Linked DNA regions of Homo sapiens. The protein of the gene in region 3 interacts with the protein of the main gene of each other region in a biochemical or structural test. Each region holds a gene or a part of one and is shown on either strand. Other genes may lie near its edges.

Region 1 (3,788 bases), on a different chromosome or scaffold from region 3:
TGATTCTCCCTTTCCTTTTTTCTTCCTAACCCTAAAGTTGTCATGAGAGAAGAGATCCCCAGAGGTCCCCATGGAGACAAAATTATAAACTCATGAAAAATAGAAAATATCAAAGTCATTCGATAGCTGTGTTTGATTTCCCATTGGCATGGTCTGATTTTCTTTTTACTTTCTTCTTACTGCCGATGAGACTCTGCAGTCTGCAGGAACAAAATGGCGGCACCCATTGATTTAGTTTAGTTCAAATGTGCACATAGAGGCATTACCTCTCTCTAGAGTGTAAGCTCTTTGGGGACAGGGTGGCTTTTCTCCCTTAGAATTCCCTTCGATTGTATAACGTCTGCATGCATAGTCAGCTCAAAGACTGTGGAATGTAGCTGAATTTCGAATTTGCTTATAGCCAGCCAAGCCATATTAAATTTCCCCAGTATATAGAGAGCTGAGAACACACACTGAGCTCGGGGCCTGAACCTCTTATTGCAGGCATTGGTCTGAGGGGCAGAGCTCATGAGAGTTCTTCTGGGCCAGGGTCTAAGGAGGCCCTCACTTAACCGGGGGCCTGTTGCATGGTTCTAGGTCATGGCTGCTGCCTGGGAGCCCATGTCTCCCCACTACTAGACATCATCTCCCAGCATTTTTGTCTGTCAAATTATGGAGTCTGGATTTTTTTCAGATTAAGTAAGCACTTAGAATGTAACATTATTCTATGTAGTATATATTGAAATATATTTCATAAATAGTAATATACATGTTTGTATTGAATTAGAAAAGACAGCTAAGGAAAAAAATCAGAATAGCCTCTTAAATGCCATGTCCTCATGCCTACTTCTGCCTTCAACGATAATCACTGTTAACATCTTTGCGTTTTCCTTTATATTATTTTTTTCTGTTTGTAAACGCGCACATGTATATGTTAGGTTTTTACAGAAGTGGAATCGTGTTTTGCTGACCGTTTTGTCCTGCTTTACTCAATATGACCTTAGGAACACAATTTCTTGCCAATAACTATAGGGTATGACTTTTAATGCTGAACAGCACTCCATCATGTGGACGCGCTGTCAGTCATCTATTTTCAGACATTTGTTTCCAGGTTTATGCTATTATACATAATCTGTGCACTTTATTATTTTTCCAAAATAAATAACTGGAAGTGAAATTACTAACAAAAGCTTTTTAAAAGCCTTTTGATATGCATTACCAAATTCAAAAGGTCTCCATGTTTACCTTTACCTGGGCATAAGGGTTATTTTGGGACCCCCGCCCATATCCCCAACCGCATGCCATTCTTTTCAGCACTTAGAATTAACCTTCTCTTCCATTCTTGACAATCTGACCTTTTTTAAAAAAAATTCTCATTTTAGGTTTACGTGAAATTTCTCGAAGTGGACCAGGGGTGGTGGCTCATGCCTGTAATCCCAGCACTTTGGGAGGCCAAGGTGGGAGGATCACTTGAGGCCAGGAGTTTGAATCCAGCCTGGCCAACATGAAACCCTTTCTCTACTAAAAATACAAAAATTAGCCGGGCGTAGTAGAGGGTACCTGTAGTCCCAGTTACACGGGAGGCTGAGGCAGAAGAATTGCTTGAACCTGGGAGCCACTGCACTCCAGCCTGAGTGACAGTGGCTCCATCTCAAAAAAAAAAAAAAAAAAAAATTCTTGAAGGTTCTGAACGGAAAAGGAAAATGTTGGAGGATGGCTGCCTCCCAGGTGGGAGTGCTCCATGGCCCGGAGGGGTGAGGACACCTTTGCTGAGTTTAGGAGTCTTGACCCTGGTCTGTTCCCGTCCACACCTACCTGGCCTGGTTCCAAACCTGCAGCAAGGCTGCGGCTGGGAGTTTAGCCATCCTGTCCCCTTGGGCCAGCCCTGGGTGGAACTCAGATCCTCTGTGGCCTCTGAATTGGAAATTTATGGGGAAGCCACTGTGGACAGAGCCACCAGAGCTGAGGCCCTGCCCATCTCCTCCTCATAGGAGGAGCCGGTGCCAGCCTTTCCGTGTGAACCTGTGATCCGTGAAGTCGGGTAAGCCCTTGCCAGTCCTGACATGAGCAAGGGACACAGAGCTTCCTAAATATATAGACTGGGATTTTGTCCGAATCACATGACGACCCAGGTTTTCTTTTTCCCTCTTTGTTGCTTTTAATACATAAAATGAGCATGTGTTTATTTAAAACAGCTTTCAAACTCAAACAAATAATGACAGACTGTTCAAACAGACTTCGGAAATCGCCCCAATCAGGATGTTTGAAAAATCAGGAAGACTTTCTACGAAAGAAGCTTTCAGGTCATTTTAGTCCCGAAGCCGCAGGGTCTCCTTTGCACTTTGGAATTGTAGAAGGGCAAAGTTTAGAGGCCAGCTCCAACCTCCAGGGGGTTAAATGACTTGCCCTCTAGCCCTACACTCTAATAATGTGTAAAGAAGGACAGATAGGTAGGCATTGTATTATCACTTCCCATCTTTGACCAGAACACGGGATGTATACATTTTAATTCATAATTCCTATAGAAATTACGGACTATCCTCAGATCAGAAAGCTAAGAGAGGAAATTGCTTCTGCAAAACGGCAGGCTCAGCAGAACTTCTTGGGGGAAGGGCAGGTTGAGTAGGTGCGGAGCAGGTCTGCAAGAGGACAGACAAGAGCAAGGTGTTTGTTCTGCCACGAGCTCACTTTCTGTATCCAATTTACAAATGGCTTTGAGTGACCTACGTTAATCTTCACAATAATGAATTTTATGGCTATGGATGAAGTAAATGAGGCTCGGGGCTGGGTTATCTGCTGAAGGTTATAAACTAATAAAATATCAAAGCCAGGGTTCACCCACACTCCTCCTCCAAGTCCCATGCCCTTCTCAGCCCCCTGGGATGGCAACAGCATCTCTATGCTGAGGCTTTGGGCCAAGAGCTGCTAGTTTAGCTCATCTCACTCTAGAAATGACATTGTTCTACGTAATGCATATCAGAAATGGCCTGTTAGGTTCATGAGAAGCACTGTTATTTGTGTGGGGGTGAGGGTGGTGAGAGGGAATTATTCCAGCTCTGAGGAGGTGGGGATATTTGGGACAGCATTTCTTCTGCTCTCCAGCACTGTGTGCCAGACCAACTGGGAGAAAATGCCAGCTGGAGTATGTCCCTGCATCCTCCGGTTTCCCAGGATGGCTTCAGGTCCAGACAGGACAAATGATCAGGGGCTTAGTCTGGTTCAGATTTTGCCACACAAAACTCTGTTGATTACTAAAGGGATTCAGAGCCCGGCCACTGACCTTCTCAATGTCAAGCCAAATTGCAGACAACCTATTGCCAGTGCCCTGACAAATTTGGGGTGTCTTTTGGCTGGGCTATTGGGGGTTTCAGCCTACCCATCCCTCAGAGAGAGAAGCATGGATGGGAGGACTAGTTGACATTTGCAGCCGTGTCTGTGATGTCTTGGGTTGCTCCCTGGAAGAGGCAGAGTTCTGGCTTGTGGAGAAGTCCTGACTCCTTCCTGCCCCACTGATCCCTGCTTATATGGAGAGGGGTGTGCATCTTGGCAGACAATCATGATTGTGCCTTAGCTCTGTGCTAAGAGCACTAAACACACATTTTATGTACGTCTATTGCCTCGCTTTTCTAACACTGAAATTTAGAAATGTTTAACAATAGATATTTAAAAAGAAGAAGAAAGCCCTTGCGCCCTCTCCTGGTAAAAGTTAACCAAGGACCTCCAAAGATGCAGAAGGCCCACTGGGTTAGCAGTCGCTGGTCTGGGCTAGCTGATTGTGCTGATTTGACCAATGCTGTTGACACACAGGA
Region 2 (3,788 bases), on a different chromosome or scaffold from region 3:
TGTAGAGACGGGGATCTCCCTATGTTGCCCAGGCTTGCCTTGAACTTGTGGCCTCAAGCAATCTTCCCACCTTGGCCTCCAAATAGCTAAGACTACAGGTGCTCATCACCACACTCAGCTAATTTTTTTTTTTTTTTTTTTTAGAGACAGGATCTCACTACATTGCCCAGGCTGATCTCAAGCTCCTGGGCTCCCAAAGCTTTGGGATTGCAGGTATGAGCCACTGTGCCTAGCCAAGGCGTTTTCCTAAAGTACAAGACCCTAGCACCTCCCTAGCTTCTGACTCTAATGGGACCCAGTTCCCCCACTCTTCTGCACCCAGAGCCCAGACCTTGAGCAGACGTCACCTCAGTCCTGCCCCCTCCCCTGGTCTTTTGCTGCGCATCTGTTCCCTCTGCCAAAGGCAACCCACCTCGGAGGGCCTCTGGGAACTTCTGGGGCTGCTGCCGTAGGTTGGATCCAAACAGGAAGCAGAGCCCTTTCACATACGTGTTCTCACTGCAAGTCTGGTGCACGGTGGGACCACAGGCCTAGGGGACAGGAGCCAGTGGAAGGGGCTGCCCCTGCTTCCTGTCCTTGTACCCCAGCACCTCCACCCTCCACAAGACCCCCAGCCCCACCATGCGTGGGCCCCCAAACACCCCCATTAGGATGCTCCTCTGATCGAGCCCCACTCACCAGCAGCTGAGGGGGGCTGGTGGTGGCTGCCAGGGACAGGCCCAGGGACATGTTCACGGCCTCCACGGGGACTGCGGGGACAGATATGGGCATGGTCACCCTGGTGGGGGGACAGAGAAGGCTGTGGAAGAGCTGGGCAGGGGTCACCTCCATGCGGGAGACAAGGAGGTCTGACGGTGAAGGGGGATCCTAAATCTTGGGAAAGAAAGGAACACAGAGGGGTTGCCTGGGGATGTCTAGGGTAGAGACTGCAGGCAGAGGAGAGGGTACGGAGGCAGGCACCTGTGTCCCCACCACAGATCCCCAGGACACAGGAGTGCCTGGAAAGTCCCTATGTGTTCACAGGGGAATCCCAGTCCCAGCCCGGCGGGGCAGTGACTCACCCTGCAGGCGGATGGGCTCGCATGAGCCTGTGCTGTAGTCGCACTGGTAGAGGCTGCCCCTTTGGTTGGCAGCCACTATCTCCTGGGGGGCTCCAACCACCACCCTGTGGGGAGAAGTGGGAACAGAGAAAACTTCGACATGTGGGGAGAGAAGGAGACCACAGAGGAAGTTCTGCCACCCAGAGGACGGTGGGGGCCCATACCCGGATTCCTAAATTCCTATGACTAGGAGGAAGAATTAGCAAAGAAAAAAATGGGAAAATGTTAAGACTCAGAATGAGAAAAGGTCTTCCTAAGAATGACACAAAAACCAGAAGTCATTTAAAAATAGGACCAGGCGCGGTGGCTCATGCTTGTAATCCTAGCACTTTGGGAGGCCAAGGGGGTGGATTGCCTGAGCTCAGGAGTTCAAGATCAGCCTGGGCAACATGGTGAAACCCCGCCTCTACTAAAAATACAAAAAATTAGCCACACGTGGTGGTGCGTACCTGTAATCCCAGCTAAATGGGAGGCTGAGGCAAGAGAATTGCTTGAACCCAGGAGGCAGAGGTTGCAGTGAGCCGAGATAGCACCACTGCACTCCAGCCTGAGAGACAGGGCAAGACTCTGTCCCAAAAAATAAATGAATAAATTTTAAAAATAAAAATAGGTCAATTCAAGCTGGGCACCATGGCTCATGCCTTTAATCCCAGCACCTTGGGAGGTTGAGGCAGGAGCATCATTTGAGGCCAGGAGTTTGAAACTAGCCCGGGTAACATAGCCAGACCCCATCTCTACAAAAAATGTTTTTAAAAATTAGCCAGGTATGGTGGTACACACCTGTAGTCCCAGGCCAACCATTTTTTTTTTTTCTTTGAGACAGGGTCTCACCCTGTTGCCCAAGATGGAGTCCAGTGGCATAATCATAGCTCACTGCAACCTCTGCCTCCTGGGCTCAAACAATCCTTCCACCTCAGTCTCCCAAAGTGTTAGAATTACAGGCATGAGCCACTGGACCCGGCCCACACAGTCATTTTATTTATTTTTATTTTTATTTATTTTCTTTCTTTGAAACAGATTCTCACTCCATCACCCAGGCTGGAGTATAGTGGTGCAATCTCGGCTCACTGCTGCAACCTCTGCCTCCCAGGTTCAAGCATTCCTCCTGTCTCAACCTCCTGAGTAGCTGGGATTACAGGTGTGTGCCACCATGCTTGGCTAATTTGTGTATTTTTAGTAGAGATGAGGTTTCCTTATGTTGGCCAGGGTAGTCTCGAACTCCTGGCTTCCAGCGACCAGCCCAGCTCGGCCTCCCAAAATGCTGGGATTACAGGCGTGAGCCCCTGCACCCAGCCTCCACACAGTCATTTTCAATAAATTTCTGGGCCAGGCGCAGTGGCTCACACCTGTAATCCCTGCACTTTGGGAGGCCGAGGCAAGTGGATCACGAGGTCAGGAAATCGAGAACATCCTGGCTAACATGGTGAAACCCCATCTCTACTAAAAATACAAAAAAATTAGCCAGGCGTGGTGGCACGCACCTGTAGTCCCAGCTACTCGGGAGGCTGAGGCAGGAGAATCGCTTGAACCCAGGAGGCAGAGGTTGCAGTGAGCCGAGATCACTCCACTGCACTCCAGCCTGGACGACAAAGCGAGACTCCATCTCAATAAATAAATAAATAAATAAATAAATAAATAAATAAATAAATAAATAAATTTTTGTATGTGATAAACTACCATAAGCATACTCAAAAGAAAAATAATACACAAGGGAGAGAGCTTCACAACTCATACCCCAGACTACTTTCCTCAGTGTACTCAAAGCTTGTACAAACTAGTAAAAAAAAAAAAAAAGAAAGAAAAATGGCCAACAGATAAGAAAAACATGTTCACAGAAAATGCCTCTCTCATAAAAAAAAAAGAAGCAATTTAAAGCTAAATTAAGATACCACTTCTCACCTACTCGATCTGCAGAGATCAGTAAGTTTGATAGCACACTGAGTTGGCAAATGAGTGAGGGAGTATGAGGAAGTAGGTATTTTCATGAATTTCTGGTGTGAGTGTAAATTGCTGCCACCACTGTAGAGGGGGATCTGGAAAAATCTATTAAAATTGCACGTGCTCATGCACCCGTGGATACCACAATCCCAGTCCTAGCCTTTACTTCCAAATAGGCTTGCACATGTGCAAAATGACAGCATTGTTCATAGAGCAAAAGTTTGGGAACAATCTAAATGTTCATTAACAAGAGATCTAATGTAATGTAAAAGGAGATTACAAGCCAGGCACGGTGGCTCAAGCCTGTAATCCCAGCACTTTGGGAGGCCGAGGCAGGTGGATCACCTGAGCTCAGGAGTTCAAGACCAACCTGGCCAACATGGTGAAACCCTGTCTCTACAAAAATACAAAAATTAGCCAGGCGTGGTGGCAGGCACCTGCAATCCAAGCTACTCAGGAGGCTGAGGCAGGAGAATCGATTGAACCCAGGAGGCAGAAGTCGCAGTGAGCCAAGATCATGCCACTGCACTCCAGCCTGGGCGACAGAGGGAGTCTCTAAAAAAATAAAATAAAATAAATTATAGCATCTCCCAATTATGGCATGCAATGCAAGCATAACATGGGATTAATGGACTCAAATCACTGGGCTGTATTATGGGAGATAAAGCAAAGAGCAGAGACCAGCCCCCTTCTTCTGGAAAGGTACTATCACCTCCACAATTACTGTTTCTGTAAAGGTAAATGTTTTAG
Region 3 (3,788 bases):
TGCCCACGTTTAAGATTAGTTTTCCAGGCTGGGCGCGGTGGCTTACACCTCTGCACTCCAGCCTGGGCAACAGAGCAAGACTCTGTCTCAAAAAAAAAAAAAAAAGATTAGTTTTCCAGACATTTTGATCTATACGTGGACCAGCATCTTTTTTTTTTTTTTTTTTTGAGACAAGGTCTCGCTCTGTCACCCAGGCTGGAGTGCAGTGGCGCGATCTCGGCTCACTGCAACTTCCGCCTCCCAGGTTCAAGTGATTCTCCTGCCTCACCCTCCTGAGTAGCTGGGATTACAGGTGCCCACCACCACGCCTGGCTAATTTTCGTACTTTTAGTAGAGACAGGGTTTCGCCATGTTGGCCAGTTTGGTCTTGCACTCCTGACCTCAAGTGATCCACCCACCTTGGTCTCCCAAAGTGCTGAGATTACAGGTGTGAGCCATTGCACCTGGCCTTTTTTCCAATAGTCTTGAATGGATGTCAAATTAGAGAATTGCAAGCCACTGAGGCTGACTTTGCATGGGCTATTCGGCCATTGGAGAAGAGTACAAAGCTGGATTTCCATTTTGCTCAGGGCCCTAGAGCTCGTGTGTGTGCTTTCTCTTCAACTCCTGTCCTTTTTGTCTTCTTCACAGATGGCAGAAGATTTTCAAGTCCCGGCTGGTGGAGTTGTTAGTGTCCTATGGCAACACCTTCTTTGTGGTTCTCATTGTCATCCTTGTGCTGTTGGTCATCGGTGAGTGAGCTATGGCTGAGGGCAGCTACCTGACCTAGACCCTGGTCTCTGCTGCAAAACCCTTTGCCACTTTTGATGTGTAGCATCCAGTTTTGGCTGCTAGGAGACAGACCAATGAAATGCTGTGTCTTTCTCTTGAGGGAGGGAAGAGGCTCCCTTTGCCCATGCTGCTGACCGCTAGTCGGTTCTTCACTTTGAGGCCCCTCTAGGCCGTACATGGTGGCTCATGCCTGTAATCCCAGCACTTTGGGAGGCTGAGGTCGGTGGATCACCTGAGATGAGGAGTTCGAGATCAGCCTGGCCAACGTGGTGAAACCCCATCTCTACGAAAAATACAAAATTAGCTGGGCGTGGTGGCGGGCACCTGTAATCCCAGCTACTTGGGAGACTGAGGCAGGAGAATTGCTTGAACCCACGAGGCAGAGGTTGCAGTGAGCCTAAATCGCACCATTGCACTCCAGCCTGGGCAACAAGAGGGAGACTCCATCTCAAAAAAAAAAAAAAGAGGCCCCTCTAGCAGTGGGCGTGGGCTTATACCAAGCAGTTTGTATGCAGCTTATGACGGCCACCTTACATTGCTTTTTTTCAAGACCTTGGAAGGAGGGACGCCTAAGGTTTCTGAGGCTGCTCCTCAGGTCACTCTAGAACTGAAGCCAAGAGAAGCTAACTGGCCTGTGACCTTGGTCTGAGTAGTGCTGCTCACCAGTCACTTAAACAGCAGAATTGCCTGGAGCAGGGCCTCTAATGGGGGACTGAGCAACCAAGCACACAGTGAAGTCCTGCCATTCCCTGTAGTAGTAGGAGGAGAACACAGAGATGTGTGGCAGCATATCTTGGGGAGAGATCCTAGACCTCTCTGCATCTGGGCTAGACTTGAGGTTTTCCCAGGTCGTTCCAGCTCTGTAGTTCTGTAAACTCTGACATTGAGGTGTACACTAGCAGGTGCTTGAAAGATAAACTGGTCCAAGGGCAAGCAGGCTCTGGGATAAGGCCAGGCCAGGTGGTGGTAAGATGAAAGGCAGACATTTTGCAATGAGGTGGTAGGGTGACCATCTGGAGACAAGAATCAATAAAGCTCTTGTCTGACTGGTAGATGTTTGTTGTTTTGCTGTGGTAAGTGATCGATATGTCCCCCTGTTTGGGCTCCAAAGTATTGGCTTGGCTCTGCTGTGGACACCACTCTTGTCTCAGAGCTGTGGTGCCTGCCTAGGCGTGGAACACTCCTCCCACCGAGTCCCAGCAGAAACACTGAGCGGGTGGGGGGCTGTGGTTCAGGGGAATGTGCAAAGCCTCACCCACCAGCTTCAGCATTAGGCATTTCTCCTTCCTGATGTCTCAGAGCCTGATAGGATATGTTCAGGCTGGACTGCCTCTGAACAGGCCAAGTGTTACCTGACAGCTTCCAACCACATAGGGTAGGTGCCAGCTGCCTGAGCACCTCAGTGTTCTTGAAATACTTGGCAAGGCCCCAAGAGGTAGTAGCTCTTTCTAACCAGGGTTCTCGCCCTGAGCAGCCTCCAAGCCAGGAGTAGGTAGGTAATATATGTGTCATCCCCAGGCCACTGAGTTTTTGAACTGAGCATGTGTGTTTTGGCTTTTGGGTCTGGGGTGGGGGTAATAACTGGGGAGGGGAGGGACCATGCTGAGGATGATTCCCTCAGGGTCTTGCCCCTTCCCCAAACCAGAAGGAGTATGTTTCTTTCCTAGAGCAGCTGAGTGGGCTGGAGAGATCCTTTGCGGAATCCAGTAGTTGACAAAGCCTTCATTCTTTTTTGGGATCGGGGAACTGCTTGGAAGTTCTAGGGGGACATATGGCCATGATGACTGGCTGCTTCCTACTCCCATGTTAAGAAGCATAATCTAGAAAGATCTGCAGAGCCTTCTTCAAACAGAAGTGTTAGTCACAGGTACTAGTGAAGGGTAAGGGGCATAACTAGCTAGAGCTGTGGCCTTGCTTGGGGGTGGGGAGGGTTGAGCAGATCCTCCTGGAGGATGGAGTTGCTGAGGGTGCAGGATCTTCCCACCTGGGCTGAGGCCCGAGACAGGGAGGGCTGGTTTCTACTGTGGGACTTGGGTTAGTATTGCTCAGTCCCCCATCCCCACTATTGGTCATTGGCCAAGGTGGTCCTTAGGATGGTGGGGTTCCTGGATGCAGGTGACAGTGTAAGGAAACATGTTTATCTTGTTTTTCTGATTACAAAAATAATGGGTAATTATTCTTAAAAATTCAAAAGTTGAATTTAGAAAGTTAAACTCCCCATAATCCCATTTCCCACAGGTAACCATCATGAGTATTTTGTTGTGCATTTCCAGAGGGGTTTTGTATGCTGACATCTTTAATAAAATGTCTACAACGGTGGGATCATACACACAAAGTATTTATGTTTCTTTCCACATTCCTGCTGGGACATGGCAGGAGGAGCATTCCACGCCTGAGCTGGTAGCACAGCTCTGAGATAAGACTGCTGTCCATAGCAGAGCCTAGCCAATACTTTGGATTGTGCTTTTTCTACCTGCTGCACGTTAGACATCTTTTTTTTTTTTTTTTTTTTTTGAGATGGAATCTCACTTTGTTGCCCAGACTGCAGTGCAGTGGCGCCATCTTGGCTCACTGCAACCTCCGCCTCCCAGGTTCAAGCGATTTCCCCTGCCTCAGCTTCCGAGTAGCTGCAGGTTACAGGCGCCCGCCACCATGCCCGGCTAATTTTTTGTATTTTTAGTAGAGACGAGGTTTCACCGTGTTGGCCAGGCTGGTCTTGAACTCCTGGCCTCAAGTGATCCGCCCACCTCGGCCTCCCAAAGTGCTGAAATTACAGGCATGAGCCACTGTGTCCGGCCAACATCTTTTTATAGCAATCTCATTCTTCTTAAAGATCATGTAGTATTCTCTCATGTGGTTGTGCCGTAATCCATTCTTTATAAGCATCTTCGAATCATTGCAAATTTATGCAAATACTTCTGTGGGATAATTTCAGAGGTGAATTGTTGAACCCGAGGGTATGAACATTTTGCATTTTATACAGGTGTGCTGTTTTTACCCCTGCTAACAGCGTTTGA

What was found.
Region 1: the proteins of BCAP31 (region 3) and BCL2 form a complex in vitro, tested with the Homo sapiens proteins (one study listed by BioGRID).
Region 2: the proteins of BCAP31 (region 3) and ITGAM form a complex in vitro, tested with the Homo sapiens proteins (one study listed by BioGRID).

The regions. Positions count from the first base shown.
Region 1 is NC_000018.10:63,131,185-63,134,972, reverse strand, and holds part of BCL2 (apoptosis regulator Bcl-2), read left to right. Parts: intron 1-3,788. UniProt on the Homo sapiens protein: Suppresses apoptosis in a variety of cell systems including factor-dependent lymphohematopoietic and neural cells. Regulates cell death by controlling the mitochondrial membrane permeability. Appears to function in a feedback loop system with caspases.
Region 2 is NC_000016.10:31,262,772-31,266,559, reverse strand, and holds part of ITGAM (integrin alpha-M isoform 2 precursor), read right to left. Parts: intron 1,166-3,788; coding exon 1,062-1,165; intron 779-1,061; coding exon of another isoform or gene 750-778; coding exon 679-749; intron 531-678; coding exon 413-530; intron 1-412.
Region 3 is NC_000023.11:153,717,815-153,721,602, reverse strand, and holds part of BCAP31 (B-cell receptor-associated protein 31), read left to right. Parts: intron 1-630; coding exon 631-731; intron 732-3,788. UniProt on the Homo sapiens protein: Functions as a chaperone protein. Is one of the most abundant endoplasmic reticulum (ER) proteins.